Linked DNA regions of Homo sapiens. The main gene of each other region encodes a partner of the protein of the gene in region 2 in a complex. Each region holds a gene or a part of one and is shown on either strand. Other genes may lie near its edges. The genes, in order: EIF2B5, EIF2S3 and EIF2S1. A codon is read from its position in the direction of its gene.

What was found.
Region 1: the proteins of EIF2S3 (region 2) and EIF2B5 are in contact, whole or in part, in a cryo-EM structure (PDB 6K71), measured with the Homo sapiens proteins. Residues at the interface, in NP_001406.1 of Homo sapiens: Glu72, Leu73, Glu74, Arg75, Thr78, Pro166, Gln167, Pro168, Thr170, Ser171, Glu172, Ala175, Glu178, Ala209, Phe210, Gln212, Thr214, Lys303, Asp304, Arg352, Phe376, Leu378, Arg379, Arg380, Leu382, Gly383, Arg385, Glu387, Val403 (codon at 1,255), Met405 (codon at 1,261); in NP_003898.2 of Homo sapiens: Glu126 (codon at 6,644), Tyr128 (codon at 6,650), Asp137 (codon at 6,677), Ala140 (codon at 6,686), Lys141 (codon at 6,689), Gln255 (codon at 7,213), Gln258, Leu259, Asp262, Asn263, Phe264, Asp265, Asn279, Asn285, Asp549, Phe553, Glu556, Thr560, Arg563, Glu567, Asn573, Leu576, Glu577, Asn579, Ser580, Leu581, Lys582, Tyr583, Ala584, Tyr585.
Region 3: the proteins of EIF2S3 (region 2) and EIF2S1 are in contact, whole or in part, in a cryo-EM structure (PDB 6K71), measured with the Homo sapiens proteins. Residues at the interface, in NP_001406.1 of Homo sapiens: Asn265, Lys266, Pro267, Gly268, Cys269, Glu270, Val271, Asp272, Asp273, Leu274, Lys275, Pro313, Ile314, Phe315, Lys317, Lys342, Ile343, Asp344, Pro345, Thr346, Leu347; in NP_004085.1 of Homo sapiens: Tyr200, Gly201, Tyr202, Ile205, Val208, Lys209, Leu212, Gly215, Leu216, Ser219, Ile227, Asn228, Leu229, Ile230, Tyr235.

The regions. Positions count from the first base shown.
Region 1 is NC_000003.12:184,131,032-184,138,440, forward strand, and holds the start of EIF2B5 (translation initiation factor eIF2B subunit epsilon), read left to right. Parts: upstream 1-4,326; 5' UTR 4,327-4,354; coding exon 4,355-4,549; intron 4,550-5,580; coding exon 5,581-5,705; intron 5,706-6,588; coding exon 6,589-6,774; intron 6,775-6,866; coding exon 6,867-7,044; intron 7,045-7,134; coding exon 7,135-7,215; intron 7,216-7,409. UniProt on the Homo sapiens protein: Acts as a component of the translation initiation factor 2B (eIF2B) complex, which catalyzes the exchange of GDP for GTP on eukaryotic initiation factor 2 (eIF2) gamma subunit.
Region 2 is NC_000023.11:24,071,861-24,078,985, forward strand, and holds the end of EIF2S3 (eukaryotic translation initiation factor 2 subunit 3), read left to right. Parts: intron 1-1,230; coding exon 1,231-1,403; intron 1,404-4,861; coding exon 4,862-4,925; 3' UTR 4,926-6,950; downstream 6,951-7,125. UniProt on the Homo sapiens protein: Member of the eIF2 complex that functions in the early steps of protein synthesis by forming a ternary complex with GTP and initiator tRNA.
Region 3 is NC_000014.9:67,384,310-67,387,123, forward strand, and holds the end of EIF2S1 (eukaryotic translation initiation factor 2 subunit 1), read left to right. Parts: 3' UTR 1-2,207; downstream 2,208-2,814. UniProt on the Homo sapiens protein: Member of the eIF2 complex that functions in the early steps of protein synthesis by forming a ternary complex with GTP and initiator tRNA. This complex binds to a 40S ribosomal subunit, followed by mRNA binding to form a 43S pre-initiation complex (43S PIC).

The DNA.
Region 1 (7,409 bases), on a different chromosome or scaffold from region 2:
GGAGGCAGAGGTTGTAGTGAGCCGAGATCGTGTCACTGCACTCCAGCCTGGGTGACAGAGTAAGACTCCATCTCAAAACCAAAAAAAAAAAAAAAAAAAGAAAAGAAAAGAAAAATGAAAAAAAGTATGGCAATTTCTCAAAAAATTAAATGTAGAGTTACCATATGATACAGTAGTTCCATTTATTTCAGTGAAAACAGGGACTGGAACAGATATTTGTACGATCACGTTCGTAGTGGCATTATCCACAATAGCAAAAGGGGGAAACAACCGAAGAAGTGTCCATTGACAGATAAATGGATAAATAAAATGTGGTATCTACAGCCAATGGATTATCATTCAGCCTTTAAACGGAAGGAAATTCTGAAACATGCAACAATATGGATGAACCTTGAGGACATTATGCTAAGTGAAATAAGGCAGATACAAAAAAAATACTATGTGATTCCTCTTATATGAGGGACCTAGGGCAGTCAAATTCACAGAGACAGAAAGTGGCATGGTAGTTGCCAGGAGCTGGACTGAGTGGGAAATGAGGATTGTGTTTAATGGGTACAGAGTATCAGTTTTACAAAATGAAGAGTTCTGTGGGTGGATGTTGGTGATGGTAGCACAACAACGTGAACATAAGTAACACTACAGAGTTGTATACTTAAAAATGGCCAACTTCGATCAATTTTCCATGCCAAGGTTAAAAAATTGTTAAGATGATAACTTTTATGTTTTGTTGTATTTTTACCATAATCTTTTAAAAACAGCCTCAGCCTTGGGAGAGTCAGGAATTACTTTTGTTTGTCTACAGTTGATCACATACTCAGTTACTGACTAGCAACAACCAGTCATTCGTTCAACAAATATTTAGTGAGCATCTGCCATGTGCCAGTTACTCTTCTAGGTACCTGGGGTATAGTAGTGAATAAAATAAACAGAAGGCCCACAGAGATTATATTCTAAACTGATTTCATATTCAAGACTCATTTTGAAATCTAAATTCAGAGAAAGAACCAGAACTAGCCTGAGCAACACAGAAAGACCCCATTTCTACAAAAACTACAAAACTTAGGTGTGGTGGCAGGTGCCTGTTGTCCCAGCTACTCTGGAGGCTGAGGAAGGACTGCTTGAGCCCAAGAGTTTGAGGCTGCAGTGAGCTATGATTGTGCTACTGTACTCCAGCCTGGGCAACAGAGCACAACCCTGTTTCTAAACAAAAAGAAAGAAAGAAAAGAAAAGAAAAAGAGGCTGGGTGCGGTGGCTCACACCTGTAATCCCAGCACTTTGAGAGGCCAAGGCAGGTGGATCACCTGAAGTCAGGAGTTTGAGACCAGCCTGGCCAATATGGCAAAACCCCACCTTTATTAAAAATACAAAAATCAGCCAGGTGTAGTGGTGTGAGCCTGTAATCCCAGCTATTCAGGGGGGCCTAGGTAGGAAAATCACTTGAACCTCGGAGGCAGAGGTTGCAGTGAGCCAAGATCGTGCCACTACACTCCAGCCTGGGAGACAGAGTGAGACTCTGTCTCAAAAAGAAAAAAAAAAAGAAAAAGAACCAGAACTGGCAGTTGACCAAATATATGAAAAAATGTTCAACCTCACTGAAATAGAGAAATGCAAATTAAAACTACACTTATTTTCCTTTACAGATTGGCAGAAACTCCAAACTATTGACAAAATACTCTGTTGGTGAGGCTATGGGGAAACAGGCGCTCTCATACATTGCTGGTGTAAGTGCAAAATGACACATTGTCCAGGGAGAGCAATTAAGCAGTATCTCCATGAATTCCACCAGTGCCTCATCAGGCTTGCCAGTGAGTTCAACAATGTACCTTCTGCCATGGGAATTGCATCCAATTTGAACCAGTTACTCTAATTCAATAATAAATTCTAAGAAATAAACGCAAATTTATAAAGACTATATGTAGAAAGATGTTTATTGCAGCATTATTTGTAATCGTAGAAACTGCAAAAAAAATCTGCAATGTTTCTCAAGAGAGAAATGGTTCGATAAACAATGGTATACTCGTGCTATGGAATATTATGGAATCATTGAAAATGGCTATGTTTGTCTACTTTCCCACATATGTTAAATAAAAATCAAGTTGCAGACAAAATGCATAATCATCAAAATAGCTAATACATTACCTTCACAATGTGTCAATGCCTGTTCTAAGGGCTTTTCATATATTATTTCATTTAATTCTCACAATAACTTTATGGGATAAGTATTATTATTATCCCATTTCAAAGATGAAGAAGTCCAGGCATAAAGAGGCTGAGTAGCCCAAAGCTATCCAACTAGGGCCTGGAACCGAAGCCAGGCAGTCTGGCTCTGGCATACCAGCATATAACCATAATTATCTAAACATAATTCTGTGTTTGAATACATGTGGATATACATATATTATGTTTGAATATATATGTATGGGTGTGTGTGTGTGTGTATGTAGGCATACACTCTAGCTCTAGTTCTAGACATATAAATTTAGGGAAGAAATGAATACCCATCAAATTATTAAGAATGGTTATGACTCTACAAATTGGATAGGATGAAAGAAGTAGGGAAAGGAATTTTTACTTCTTTATGTAGTGTGTGTGAGAGATTATGTATATGTGGTTTCCAATATATTTCAAGTAAGTTTTTAAACAACAACAACAAAAAACAGTTTGAGAGAGTCTTCCTGAAACTCGTCTATTAAAATCATATCCATATAGCTACCAGTCTACAGAATTTTAAGACCTGGATTTACCATAAGCACAAATGCCTTTCGGCAGCGGATTCACCACTTCCCAACTTCCCAAGGTTGCGGGAATCATTTAAAATAAATTCTGCAATCGGACCTACTTTCCATACCCAAACACCCCCCCAAGAGTGTGTGTGTGTGTGTGTTTGTGTGTGTGTGTGTGTGTCCTATTTAATTCCTTCTCCCCTCCCCCATTTCTACCTCTGGATTTGTAGGGCAGTTGAACATTCCTTTTCTACAACGTGCATTCATTTAATGGAAAACTTTTACTTAGTTGGCTTCAGCCTTTCCTTTTCTAGGATAAATCAAATGGTTTTCGTTCCGCACCCTAACGAGGCAAGAAATGACAAACTCCTCGGTCCCCCTAGGCGGGCGCCGGAGCACGACGGGTCAAGTCGGAATCGCCACGTGGAAACAGCTCTCAGCATCGCGAACTCCAAATCCCGACGTGCAACGCGGGGCGGGATGGGAACAGTTTGCAGGAACTGCAGAAGCCTGTGGCGTGGAACCTGGACAGGTCCCGTGCAGAAAGGGCGCTATGCCTTACAGAAAAGTTCCTTGCCTCCCAAATGACGCCCAGCCTTCCTGCCCCGTTCCACCGCTTTCCCACGGCCCCGCCCCTCTACAGAGTTGGTTTATTCCCCGCAGCCACCGCTTCTTTCCCCAAAGAGAAAAAGGTGCTGCTGCGCCTTTTCAAGCCTTGGACCTTTACGCCCGCACTTTCCTCTGCCCAGAAAGCTTACTGCTTAACTCCAGTACAACTTACTGGTGCGCCTGGATCCACCCCCGTCTCCACTCTGCTTAAGACACAGGAGGCTGATAGGCTGGAAGAATGAATAGATGACATAAAATAGTCATTGTTATCCCCACATAACTTGGCAGCAAGATTGTGGAACTCTGCAGTCAGACAGATCGGGTTCCAATACCAGTTCTTCCACTTACTAGCTGGGTAAACTTCCTTCATCCTTCTGAGAGTTCAAGAAACGTTTGCTGAACGAATGAATAAGATGTTTTGCAGAGATAATGCTTGTATCGTGCCTGGCCCAAAATCAGCGCTCAATGGAATTACTGGTCTCCCTACTATATGCCTGCCACCTTCTCTATTTATGCAGGTTCTGAGTTCCTCGCAGCGGGGGAACATCTGGCTCGGTTCTATCTCCCCAAGGCGCTGGGTTCCCAGAAGTTTCTAGAATGAATACGGAGGGCTACATATTTCACATGCGCGGGGCGGGGAAACTGCTGGGCGATTACAGATTCCCGATGGAGCTGGCCCCTTCGTGGCGACCACAAGTCCTATCACGCCACAAGAATCTCGGCTTGTTCACCTACAAATGAAGGCCGACGATACTTGCAGACCGAGTCTGACATCTATGGGACCCCACTCCTACCCTGCGCCTCAGGGGCCGGGACAACCGTGACCCGTACCGACTCCTCGCGCCTCCGGGATCAACCTCAGACCCCTGTGGGCTCCCGGGGAAGACGCATGCGCACTGCTCCCTCCTCGTCTCCTTCCCTTCGTTAATTAGTCCATCGCATTTCAAGTGCTGGATCCTTTTTGTCCCCTACTGCGTGCGGTGGCAGCTTCCTTGCGGAAGTGGTGACCGTGAGAGAAGAAGATGGCGGCCCCTGTAGTGGCGCCGCCTGGTGTGGTGGTTAGTCGGGCTAACAAGCGCAGCGGCGCGGGGCCGGGAGGCAGCGGTGGCGGGGGAGCCAGAGGGGCGGAGGAGGAACCGCCGCCGCCCCTACAAGCAGTTCTGGTGGCCGATAGCTTCGATCGCCGCTTCTTCCCCATCTCCAAGGACCAGCCTCGGGTGAGCGCCGCGCACGCGAGCAGCCAGAGGGCAGGAAGGGTGGCAGGGCTGGAGCAAGTTCTCATTTCGGCTAACTACAACAGCATGCCCTTGAAGGACCTGCGTCTATGCTGTTATCCTAAAACCGGATGCAGAGGGACTGTCTAAACCCTGATGACTGCTGACCAAGTTAGTGGCCGGCAGATTTGGGCATTCGTAATGCTGTCCACCTCGGGTTTGAAAGGAATGAAGAGAGCTAAATGTAGAAACAGCGCTTGAGAGAAGCCTTCACGCGGGGATTCAGTGCCCCTAGAAGAGGCTGCGCCGCTTTTAACCTTGCCGATGACGGTTGCTTAGGTGAAAAGAAACGACCTTTTGCCTCTGAAAGGGCGGTAATATGCCTTAAAAAGAGCGGGCTAGATCTCAGGCAGTGTATTTTTTTTTTCCTTCCAGGTTCTAATGATAGCCGGTGCTATCTGTCGAAAGGACAAAATGGGTTTAGTGGTTGATTGCCATCAGCCCCCGAGTTGTCTAGACAATGGGGTATTGGACTCAGCTGGGTCGTTCAGCAGTCAGTTCAGAAAGAGGGAACTGCATTGGATTTAAGGAAAATCCTCTCTAATTCCCTCGAAAAAGCCTAATGGCTGTTCATTTTTGACAAGTGACGGGAGATGGCTAACCTCTGACACTTAGAAAGGGATCAAGGAAGGAAATCTTATGGGGAAGAAGGCCTTAGCAATGCTTAAATTTATGGAAATATGATTGATTTCCAGTATTATCCTTTGCCAGCAGTGAACTGCCATTCTGTCACAGCTCTGTGTCTGATACAAGGCACATAGATTCTGTACTTACCATCCCCAAATTGCAATGTCTCAGACTCAGGCTTAGAGCATGGCATGAACATCAAAGGCAGGAACCTGTTTATCTTTGAATTGGAAAGATACAGCAAAATTACACTGTTTGGAAATACGAATAGAGGAGTGAAAATTGTTGCAGTGGGGTACCCAAAGGGATTCGAGACCTCAAGTTTTTTTTCATCTTGTATCCTTCAGGTCCTCTTGCCCCTGGCCAATGTGGCATTAATTGACTACACTCTGGAATTCCTGACTGCCACAGGTGTACAGGAAACATTTGTCTTTTGTTGCTGGAAAGCTGCTCAAATCAAAGAACATTTACTGTAAGGCCCTGCAACTTTTCTTTCCATGTTTCGCCATCTTTTTCCAGTTTTTTCAGGATGAATGTAACTAAGGGGAAATGTGAGAGGGGAAAAATGTGTCTACTTAGATGTCATTGTAAGTTCTAAGGGTATTTTCTACACTTATCAGGAGGTGAGCAGCTGAAACTTTGTATCTGTCTGTCTTGGGTTTTCTGTGACAAAGATTAAAGAATAAACTTGGGTTTTTTCTGAATCTCATTATAAAGTTTGGTGCCAGTGGACTTTGCTTTTATTTAATGGCTTCAGTATGGAAGTTACAATGATAACATCTTTGTTTTCCCACTGAGTTTCTAAATCTTGTTTGTTCTCACCTTCAAGGATATAAATGAGCTCCTTGTCATCTTTGTATTCCCACTGCCTAGCTCAGTCCCAAGCATATAGTGAGCACTTACATGTTTGTTGAAATCTTGAAAACTAGGGAATCGCATTGCTTATGGAAGTCCAGGATGTAAAGACTAGGACATTAGCATGGTCTCCATCAGACAGTTCCTAAATGTTATATGGATTGCAGAAGGGGAAAGCTGACGTGAAGCGTGTTCCCAGGCTACTTTGTGTACCCTAGGCTTCAGCAGGATTTTGAGTTCAAATTGATGTTTAGGGACAAGGGGTCAAGGTATGGAGAGGAAATAACCATGTTTCCTAACCCATAAAACAAGACTGGTGACACAGGATGCTGAAAGCATTCATTATAGTTCATAATACTCTTTGAAGTTGAAGACGCTGGCAAGAACCCAAAAAAGCCATCGAGAAGGACTGTGAGTGCTGAAAGGGGGTGAAAAATGGGGAAGGCTCAAATGATCTTTATGCTTGATACACTCATTCCCCTCACCCTCCCTTCCTTTAGGAAGTCAAAGTGGTGCCGCCCTACATCTCTCAATGTGGTTCGAATAATTACATCAGAGCTCTATCGATCACTGGGAGATGTCCTCCGTGATGTTGATGCCAAGGCTTTGGTGCGCTCTGACTTTCTTCTGGTGTATGGGGATGTCATCTCAAACATCAATATCACCAGAGCCCTTGAGGAACACAGGTCAGGATGGGAAAATGACAGGAACAAGGGTTAAAGACCAGCAGAGCCCTGAGACTGCTTTTTTGCAGTTCTGTCCCTCCTGTCCTTTATAGGTTGAGACGGAAGCTAGAAAAAAATGTTTCTGTGATGACGATGATCTTCAAGGAGTCATCCCCCAGCCACCCAACTCGTTGCCACGAAGACAATGTGGTAGTGGCTGTGGATAGTACCACAAACAGGGTTCTCCATTTTCAGAAGACCCAGGGTCTCCGGCGTTTTGCATTTCCTCTGGTGTGTGGATATCTGGGGTCCTTTGAGATGGGGAAGTGACAGGCTTCAGTGGGAGAAACAAATTAAAGTCCTTGTAACTTCTCCCCACAGAGCCTGTTTCAGGGCAGTAGTGATGGAGTGGAGGTTCGATATGATTTACTGGATTGTCATATCAGCATCTGTTCTCCTCAGGTGAGCTCTTTAGGGCTGGGGCTGCACACCCAAAGAGTAGAACTCTGTGGGTCTGTTATTGTCCCCTTAGAAGGCCAGGGTATATTTCTTCTCCCTGTTTATTTTCATTATTTTTACTTTTATTTTTTGAGACAGAGTCTCGCTCTGTTGCCCAGGCTGGAGTGCAGTGGTGTGATCCCAGCTCACTGCAGACT
Region 2 (7,125 bases):
CAAAATTGAGGGTTTTTTTTTTTTTAATTTAGAGATGGAGTCTCTCGCTCTGTTGCCCAGGCTGGAGTGCAGTGGCGCGATCTCGGCTCACGGCAACCTCCACCTCCTGGGTTCAAGCAATTCTCTTGCCTCGGTTTCCCAAGTATATGGGACTACAGGCACGCACCAGCACGCCCAGCTAATTTTTGTATATTTTAGTAGAGATGGGGTTTCACTATATGTTAGCCAGGCTGGACTTGACCTCCTGACCTCAAGTGATCCGCCCGCCTTGGCCTCCCAAAGTGCTGAGATTACAGGCATGAGCCACTGCGTCCGGCCAAAATTGAGAACTATATGGCAGTTAGTTTAAGAAAGAAACTTAATAAACAGGGAAAAGTATTAGCCATTTATGACAAAGACATGATATTCCTAAAATCCATATTTTTGTTTTGTTGTTTATTTTGAGACAGAGTCTTGCTCTGTTGCCCAGGCTGGAGTGCAGTGGTGCGATCTCGACTCACAGCAGCCTCGATCTCCCAGCTCAAGCCATCCTCCCACCTTAACCTCCTGAGTTGCTGGGACTACAGGTGTGGGTCACCACGCCTGGCTAATTTTGTATTTTTTGTAGAGACGGAGTTTTGCCGCATTACCCAGGCTGATCTCCAACTCCTGGGCTTGAGCAATCTGCCCACCCCAGCCTCCGAAAATGCTGGGATTAACAGGTGTGATCCACTGCGCCCAGCTTCATGATTTTTAAAAAATGTCCCAGATTAGGTTGGCAGAGATGGGAAATTGCTGACACCTAGTGTTGGCAAAGATTGAGGAAAATAAGCTATCATGCTTTTTTTTCCCCCCACTCAGGTGATCTGCCTTCCTCGGCCTCCCAATGTGCTGGGATTACAGGCGTGTGCCACTGCGCCTGGCCCATATTAACTCTTATATAGCCATAGTCCTTCATGCTCCCCTCTTTGGGAAATTTTGTACCTCATTTGTACTAGGTAACTGCTTCAGAATTTTAAGAGGTACTCTGGTACGGTTACTACCCTATTTTTTAAAGGTAGATCTTGTGTAAATTCAGTGGGTGCCAAATAAACTATACTATATATAGTTCAAATTCCTTTACAATGAAATTTCTATAGAATTTTTTTTATGATTGACATATTTCCCAATAGTATTTGGTAAATTCTTACTTACATTTGGAAAGCATTTTCTTGATTTTGGGGTTTATTTTTCCCTAATTTATTTTTCTAGGTTCAAAAGCTGTCTAAGAATGAAGTGCTCATGGTGAACATAGGATCCCTGTCAACAGGAGGGAGAGTTAGTGCTGTCAAGGCCGATTTGGGTAAAATTGTTTTGACCAATCCAGTGTGCACAGAGGTAGGAGAAAAAATTGCCCTTAGCCGAAGAGTTGAAAAACACTGGCGGTAAGTTTGTTAGTCTTTGCCACTGTCTAATTAAAAAAAGACACAGTCTTGTACAGAAAAAAAAGCACACAATCTTCCTTGAGGACAACAGTTACTGTGGCTTTCAGTCTCAACTATTTATTTGGATGACTTTGAAAACTATACTTCGGCCGGGTGCGGTGGCTCACGCCTGTAATCCCAGCACTTTGGGAGGCCTAGGCGGGTGGATCATGAGGTCAGGAGATCAAGACCATCCTGGCTAACATGGTGAAACCCCGTCTCTACTAAAAAATACAAAAAATTAGCCGGGCGTGGTGGCGGGCGCCTGTAGTCCCAGCTACTCGGGAGGCTGAGGCAGGAGAATGGCGTGAACCTGGGAGTCGGAGCTTGCAGTGAGCCGAGATGGCGCCACTGCACTCCAGCCTGGGCGACAGAGCGAGACTCCGTCTCAGAAAAAACTACAACCTTGACTATAGTCCCATATTTTAGTCCAAATACTGTGATTGGCTTCTCTTCCTGTTAGACACAACCTATGCAAAACCAAATGAATTTGGGTTCGGTATTTCTATCGTCATTGGCTTTGGAAATCATTTCACACTTAATAGAAAAATTGTAAGAGTTTTACAGAAAACTCCTCTATAGCTTTTTCCTAGATTGACAAACACACATACAGATTTATTTACATATATAAGTTTTTTTCTGAACCATTTGAGTGTAGGCTATATATGTTATGCTTCTTGATCTCTTAATACTTCAGTGTATATTTCCCATCAAAAAAGGATATTCTTATGTAACCACTTAGAAATTTAACATTGGCAAAATACTGAAATCTACAGTGCATGTTTCAGTTTTATTACTTGTCCCAATAATGTACTTTATGTTCCTCCTGTTTAGAATCTTGAATTGCATTTAATTTCATGTCTCTTTGATCTTTAATCTGGAGCTTTTTCAGCCTTTGTCTTAATTGACATTAACAGTTCTGAAGAATACAAACTAGTTACTTTATAGAATATTCCTCAATTTGGGTTTTTCTTATCATTCGGAAGCCTAACATTAGATTCAGTTATATATTCTTAACTTAAATACACCGTGAAGTCTCCTTTTCAGGAATCACAGCTAGAGGCACATGATATCTGACTGCTCCTCTTTGTTAAGGTTAGTTTTGACTATGTAGTCAAGATGTTGTCCAGCTTCTCTGCTGTGTAGTTACTCTCTACCCTTGCAACTAATAAGCAATCTGTAGGGAGATCTTTCTAGCCAGTACAAATAGCCTGCTGATCATTGAATCCCACACCCCTGGATGTAGCATCCACTGATGATTCTTGCCTGAATCGAACTTGACTATAATGATTACAAAATCATAGCACCTCTACGGGTTGCAGTATCCTCCCTCAACTCTACCACCCCACATTTATCATTTGGCATTCTTTCTTTGCCATTATTTATTTCCCTATCTAGTTATAATATGGACTCATGGAGTCCTATTTTATTCAACATGTTATGATCCATCACTGTCTTCCTTTATTTTGATGTGCATTGTTCGACGTTTGGCCAGTGGAGGTCCTTCAGGCTGGCTCTTGTGTCCTTTTGACATGTACTCATCATTTTTTTTTCTTCTTCTTTTTTTTTTTTTTTTTTTTTGAGATGGAGTCTTGCTTTGTCGCCGGGGTAGAATGCAGTGGCATGATCTCAGCTCACTGCAACCTCTGCCTCCCAGGTTCAAGCAATTCTCCTGCCTCAGCCTCCCGAGTAGCTGGGACTACAGGCACACGCCACCACACCCGGCTAATTTTTGTATTTTCAGTAGAGACGGGGTTTCACCACGTTGGCCAGCCTGGTCTTTAACCCCCGACCTCAGGTGATCCGCCCTCCTTGGCCTCCCAAAGTGCTGGGATTACAGGCATGAGCCACCACGCCTGACCTCTTTCTTCTTTTTTTTGGAACATTTCCTTATTTTCTGGCACAAAATCTTCCAGACTCATCTTGTACCTTCTCTGTTCCAGTTTTAGAACTGGCCATTTCTCTTATAAATGAAAAGCTGAGTGTTCAGGTGTGCTCATGGCTCTTAGGGTGCTGTTGCTTCTAGGTCTTTTGAGAGCATAGAGCCAGGAAGCATACACACATTTTTGGCTCCTGACTTTTTGCTCTTTCCCAGGTTATTGAGTTTGCCCCTTGCTTTCCATTCCTCGTCACCTCATCACAGTCCATACCACCATCACTTTACACTTCACAGTTAGTGCGAAAGACTCCTAGTTTGCCTCTTAACTTGGTCAAAATTAGTCTTCTTAAAACATTTTCATCATGCTGTGTTTAATAATTTCTAGAGTCTTCTCACTACTTTTTGATATTTGGGACTTTTCTAGAAACCTGCTTCAACCCATTTAAGCTTTCCTTCTGCATTGTCTTATATAAACCCTCTAAATTAGACTGTTTTGTGCCCTAACTGTCCCCATAATTATTCACATCACCCCTACCCACTATCTACTTCCTTAATTATTTATTTTATATTTTTTAGAGGCAGGGTCTCTCTGTTGACCAGGCTGGAGTTTAGTGGCATGATCATAGCTCACTGCAGCCTCAGTGTCTAAGTAGCTAGGACTATTGGCTCACACCACCGTGATCAGCTAATTTTTTTGTTTTTTGTAGACACTTGGTCTCACTGTGTTGCCCAGCATGATCTCAAACTCCTGGCCTCAAGCCATCCTCCCACCTCAGCCTCTCAAAGTGTTGGGATTACAGACATGAGCCACCCCGCCCAGCCCTGTTTCCTTTATTAAGGCTTCCATGCTACTGTGCCCACGATGGTCTCATCACTTGTCCAGGAGATTTATCTGAATTATTGCCCTGTAATTTAGAAAGTTAAATTTTTGTTGTCTCTTAAGTAAATAATTATTTGTGGTGACTTATGCCCTTTTGATTTTACTGTCTTTTGTGATTATATTTTTTTGCTATTACAGACACACGACTTCCAGTGTATTTTGAAATAGATTTAAGCAATAAACTTTCAGTCCAGGCACGGTGGCTCATGCCTGTAAGCCCAGCACTTTGTGAGGCCGAGGTGGGCGGATCACTTGAGGCCAGGAGTTCGCAACCAGCCTGGCCGACATAGTGAAACCCCATCTCTACTAAAAATACCAAAAAATCAGCCGGGCATGGTGGCGCATGCCTGTAGTCCCAGCTACTCGGGAGGCTGAGGCATGAGAATTGTTTGAACCCAGGAGCCAGAGGTTGCAGTGAGCCGAGATCGTACCACCGCACTCCAGACTGGGTGACAGAGTGAGACTGTCTCAGAAAAAACACACAAAAGCAAGAATAAAAAAGAATCTAAGAATATAGTGTGGGCTTTCTTTATGGAGGAGCAGGCTTTGGGAACAAATTTGAATTCAGAAGATAAGCAGGTAAAATTTATCACAAGATTGTGTGGTAATGAGAGTGAAGTGGATGTAAGATTTATGATTTCTTTTATTTTCATTTTGCAGTTTAATTGGTTGGGGTCAGATAAGAAGAGGAGTGACAATCAAGCCAACAGTAGATGATGACTGAAGAATACCAGTTAAATAATACATTCGGATGGATTTGGAAGTTGGAATTCCTCTTAACAACCAAGGGGTTTATTTTCAAAGCAATATTGGGGAATTGATTTCACAGTTCGTTACCTTAGTAGGTAACGGTAAGGTTATTCTCTTTTTTTTTTTTTTTTTTTTTGGTTATGAAAACTTAGGGACTAAAATTAATATAAAAATTGGCATAATGTTGGATTGAATCTACATTTTGGCAGAAGTTAAACATTCCCACATAATGTCAAAATTATACATCATGCAGTTCTGTTTTTTTGTTTGTTTTATTTTGTTTTGTTTTTGAGTCTGGCTCTGTCACCCAGGCTGGAGTGCAGTGGCGTGATCTGCAACCTCTGCCCCCCGGGTTCAAGCGATTCTCCTGCCTCAGCCTCCCGAGTAGCTGAGATTACAGGTGCGCGCCACCACACTTGGCTAATTTTTGTATTATTAGTAGAGACGGGGTTTCAGCATGTTGGCTAGGCCGGTCTCTCCTGACCTCAGGGTGATCAGCCCACCTCGGCCTCACAAAGTGCTGGGATTACAGGCGTGAGCCACCTTGCCCAGCCCACATCATACAGTTTGAAATGAAACTTTGCCACAACCAGCCTTTGCTGTAGCACACACATATATCACTGAACCTGTTTGAAATAAAGTTTTTTTTCTTTTTCATGATTCGTCTTTGAGTACCTCCAGGCTGAAAGACTGTTGTACCAGTAAAAACTTAAAGGCACAAATTCTCCTTGAAGACCTTCTCCCTTTTATGTGGCCCCATATTTTATGTTGCTTTATCTTTGAAATTTTGCATGAAAAGGAAATGAATGGATTCGAATGAAATTGTCCTTTAGAGCATGATTACTTGTTCCCATGGACAAATATTTTTCTCCCCTTGCTCTTCCTGGCCTGAAACACGGGAAACCAGAGTCAAAAGTTATCTCCCTCTCCCTGTGATGCCTTGAGATTTTTTTCTGCGTTGTTTAATGCCTGAAATCCAAGTCTTCCTCCATGGGAAAATACTGTTATACCAAATAATTCTAGATGAGTAACAAAGATCTTTTTAGGCCTTCATTTTATGTTTTTTCTTAACTGTTATATTATGATTGTGACATAGATTATACTACTACTAATTTTTGGATGTTTCAAAAGGTCAAGAAGTAAAAGATGTTAGAAAGCAATGAGTGAGTCCTTTTGATTTTTAACTTATTCCCCATGTCCCTATACTTCGTGTGCTTTTCCTTTTTTTTTTTGAGACGGAGGCTCACTCCGTCACCTAGGCTAGAGTACAGTGGCACGATCTTGGCTCGCTGCAACCTCTGCCTCCCTGATTCAAGTGATTCTCGTGCTTCAGCCTCCCATGTAGCTGATATTACAGGCACTTGCCACCATACCCGGCTAATTTTTGTATTTTTAGTAGAGATGGGGTTTCACCATGTTGCCCAGGCTGGTCTTGAACTCCTAACCTCAGGTGATCCGCCCGCCTCTGCCTTCCAAAGTGCTGGGATTACAGGCGTGAGCCACTCTGCCCGGCTTATTTTTCTTTATGTTTTTGCTTCGTAAGAGGTTCTGTTGAGCAGTGATTTGCAACTCTTGCTGACGTTGCTGGGGAAGCTTTAAAAAAAAAAAAGATGCCCCACAGAGATTCTGATTTTAATTGTTCTGATTTAATTGGCTTGGAGTAGAATTCAGGCATTGATATCTTTAAAAACTCCCCAGTGTTGAGAAACAAATTTAGAGAGTTGAGAAGTAGGTATATTAAATTACAGAATCTTACTGAGTTTTGGTAGACTGATAATACAATTTGCTTTGCTTTTCTTAAATTTGCATTGAGATGGGATTTGAAGCATATTGTGCTCTTGTGAATGTTGAAGTTGCATTGTAGAAGTTTAGAAGCTCTGGCTATGGGTTGCCTAAATTGATGTTTTGAGGAAGCATATTAATGTTATAAACTTCGCTGACTTTGAAGGTTGTGTTGTAGCATGAGGAACACAAATAAAACAATTCTAAATCAAACTAATTTTATATCTAACATGTCCCCATGTGTTTTGTAGGTACCTTCTACCAGAAATTTTGGAATAAGACTTAAAATATAGACATTGTAATTAATCTCATGTAAGATTTGAAACCAGAATTCTATTATAATTAATTTCAGACATCCACATGAATTAGCAAATTTGTAAAGCACTGTACTG
Region 3 (2,814 bases), on a different chromosome or scaffold from region 2:
CACCTAGAGCTCCAGTTCTTTATAACAAAACAGGGATCTGTTTGAACACTTACTGTTGTTTTTTTTTTTTTACATGTTTCCATCATTTCTGTCTTTAAGAACTAATTCGTACATAATAAGTTTCATAGGTAACACATTATTTGAAGTTACAGCTACAGTAGTCAGGTGTAGAAAATCTTGAGTTGCTTTGGTCTGCTTGTCTTCATAAATTTATTCTCTTATGATACTTGAGGTACCAGTTGTATTTAATTTTATTCATTATCCCTAGATAGCTATTAAGATACTTAGATTAGACCTAACCCACCATAGTCAATCCAAGACTAGACTACTCAATATTAAAGGGTCTGGAAAATAGAAGAGTGTGTTGGGCAGGTAGTTTGTACCATTTATGAAGGTTTGTTCCTTTGTTAAATTTAGCAGCCTGTACTAGCTTTTGAAATCCAGAAGTTTTAACTTCCAGTGGCTGGTTTCTGAGAGAGTGCCATGATTGCTAGCCAGCATTCCATATTGGGAATATGTAGAGGAGAACCTGGATGTACTTAAGAGTGGCATATAATTTTCACTTCTGTCTGTTGAGGCATCAAAAAAACAAGTTTAGAAAGCTGGCAACATGAAGAATGCATTCAAAATATAACAGGTGCTTCTTTGTTGTACGCAGAGGAATTTTTTCTTTTGATTTTGTTTACTGAAATTTGTTATACTTCAAAAGCCATAACTTGAAAAATACTGGTGGCGTCGATGGTGAGTGATTTTTATCCCACGTGGGCCTTTTGCTCAGTTCCATGGCAATTTTGTAAATTGACCCTAGCCAGAGAATAGATCAGTATTTCACTGATACCACGAGGAAAAGAACAAACAAAACTTAAAAGTATTCATACACCTTGCTAACCTAAAAGACAGCAGGGACAAGATACATATGAGGACAAGGTATACACCCAGTTCTGAATAACTTGAAGAACAGGCTTGGCAAAGAAGTAAGTTTATCCAAATCTTGAATTTCTGCCAGGCATGGTAGCTCATGCCTGTAACCCTGGCACTTAAGGGGCCAAGGCAGGAGGATCACTTGAGGCCAGTGAGCTGTGATCACTCCAGTGCACTCGAGCCTGGGTGACAGGGCAAGACCCTGTCTCAAAAAAAAAAAAAAAAACCAAAAATCTTGAATCTCCCATCAAAGCCTTTTCATTAAAAATACAATTTCATCTACTCCCTACTGTACCTTTCACTGATGTCAAGTGGCTATCAATTCATATAGCTGAAAATTAGTGATAGTTTGGGTCTCATTTATGCATAAATTAATTGAAAATCAGTAATGGCCAGGAAGAAATATGAATATTCAAACCACTTTTTTCTTTTTTTTTTTTTTTTTTTGGCAAATGGTGTTATATTGCCTGGGCAGGTCTCGAAATCCTGGGCTCAAGCTATCCTCCTGCCTCTGCCTCTGTAAGAGTGTGAGCCACCATGCCCCACCCAAACCATTTTTCATATCAGTTATAGCAAAACAAGACAAACCAGTTCTTAATAATGTTCAAAGTTGGACCCATAGAGACATGCTAAGCACTACATCATGCTAAGAAGAACAGTTATTACTCAGCTGCCATACTTCAGCCATTCTACTTTTACACCAAGAACAAAATGGCTAGAGATTTTTTTAAAAATACAAATGCCAGTACCTTGCCGAGACTTGTTCACTGATTTGCCCCAACCCCAAGGTAATGGTCATCTACTTTGCAACCTATGGAGATCCTGATAGCTCCCATACAAAGTGAGGTACACTGTTGCCAATTTGGAGGCAGGAAGCCATCAAACTAAACGTAGTTTAATTCAGATGAACACCTATCGATATTCAAAAGGCAAAACAAAAAAACTAATTCCAGGGACATTAGACCTTGGTGAAATGCCAAATGGAAAATGGTGCTTTAAAAGGTAGTCTCTTACCATATAAGGAATAAGTAAAACATTAGCTTGTGATTTCTCATTATTCAGGTCAATGTTTTAGACACGACTAACAAGGGACAGTTCAAACTATTAAAGAGAACAAATTTTTACTTAAGCACTTTGAGGTATCCACTCCCCTTAAATGTAAGTTATGTATTTTATCTGTTGATTAAGGGGAGGTCCAAGCATTTGTACTTGGCAGGAATGCTGGCAATAGCTTGTGCCAGATTACTGTATAAACTTGAAAGTAATAAAAATGTTCTTTAAAAGTATTGTATGATACAGACTTTTCACTACAGATTAACCTTCCAACTGGTGAAGTTTCTTGGTACCTATTTGTCTCAGCTTATATTCATTTTAAAACCAAAATTTAATGCCTTGATATAAATCTTCCCCATTTACATCTTTTTCTGTCCTTTAGAGCGCTCTTACTCTGCATTGCTAAATGCCCATTTTTCATAGAAAAGCTATGTAATGTATTTTTCGTATACGTGATTATGTTCTCCGACAGAGTCCATGACTTCTGTAATGTATAATATTTATGCAGGCTTGTTTTCTAAAGCAAAACAATATTCTCAATGTACAAAGTTTGGCCACCATCCCCACTTTAAGATGAACTATGTCTTAATGACAGAGATACTTGAAACGTTGCTCGAAAACTATAAACTTTGTATGGGATTCTAATAGCTAGAAACAAATTGTCAGCTTTTACTAATTCCAAAGAAGTTAAGAGAGAACCTCATAAGAAGAGAGTTTTATTCAACATTATGGCATGGCCAGTGTAATTGTTCCAACAAAGGGAACCTACTTTGGTGCCCGAGGAAATGGCTGTTTGTGATGCTGGGGAAAAGTCAAGATGCTGACGCCTAATGGCTGTTC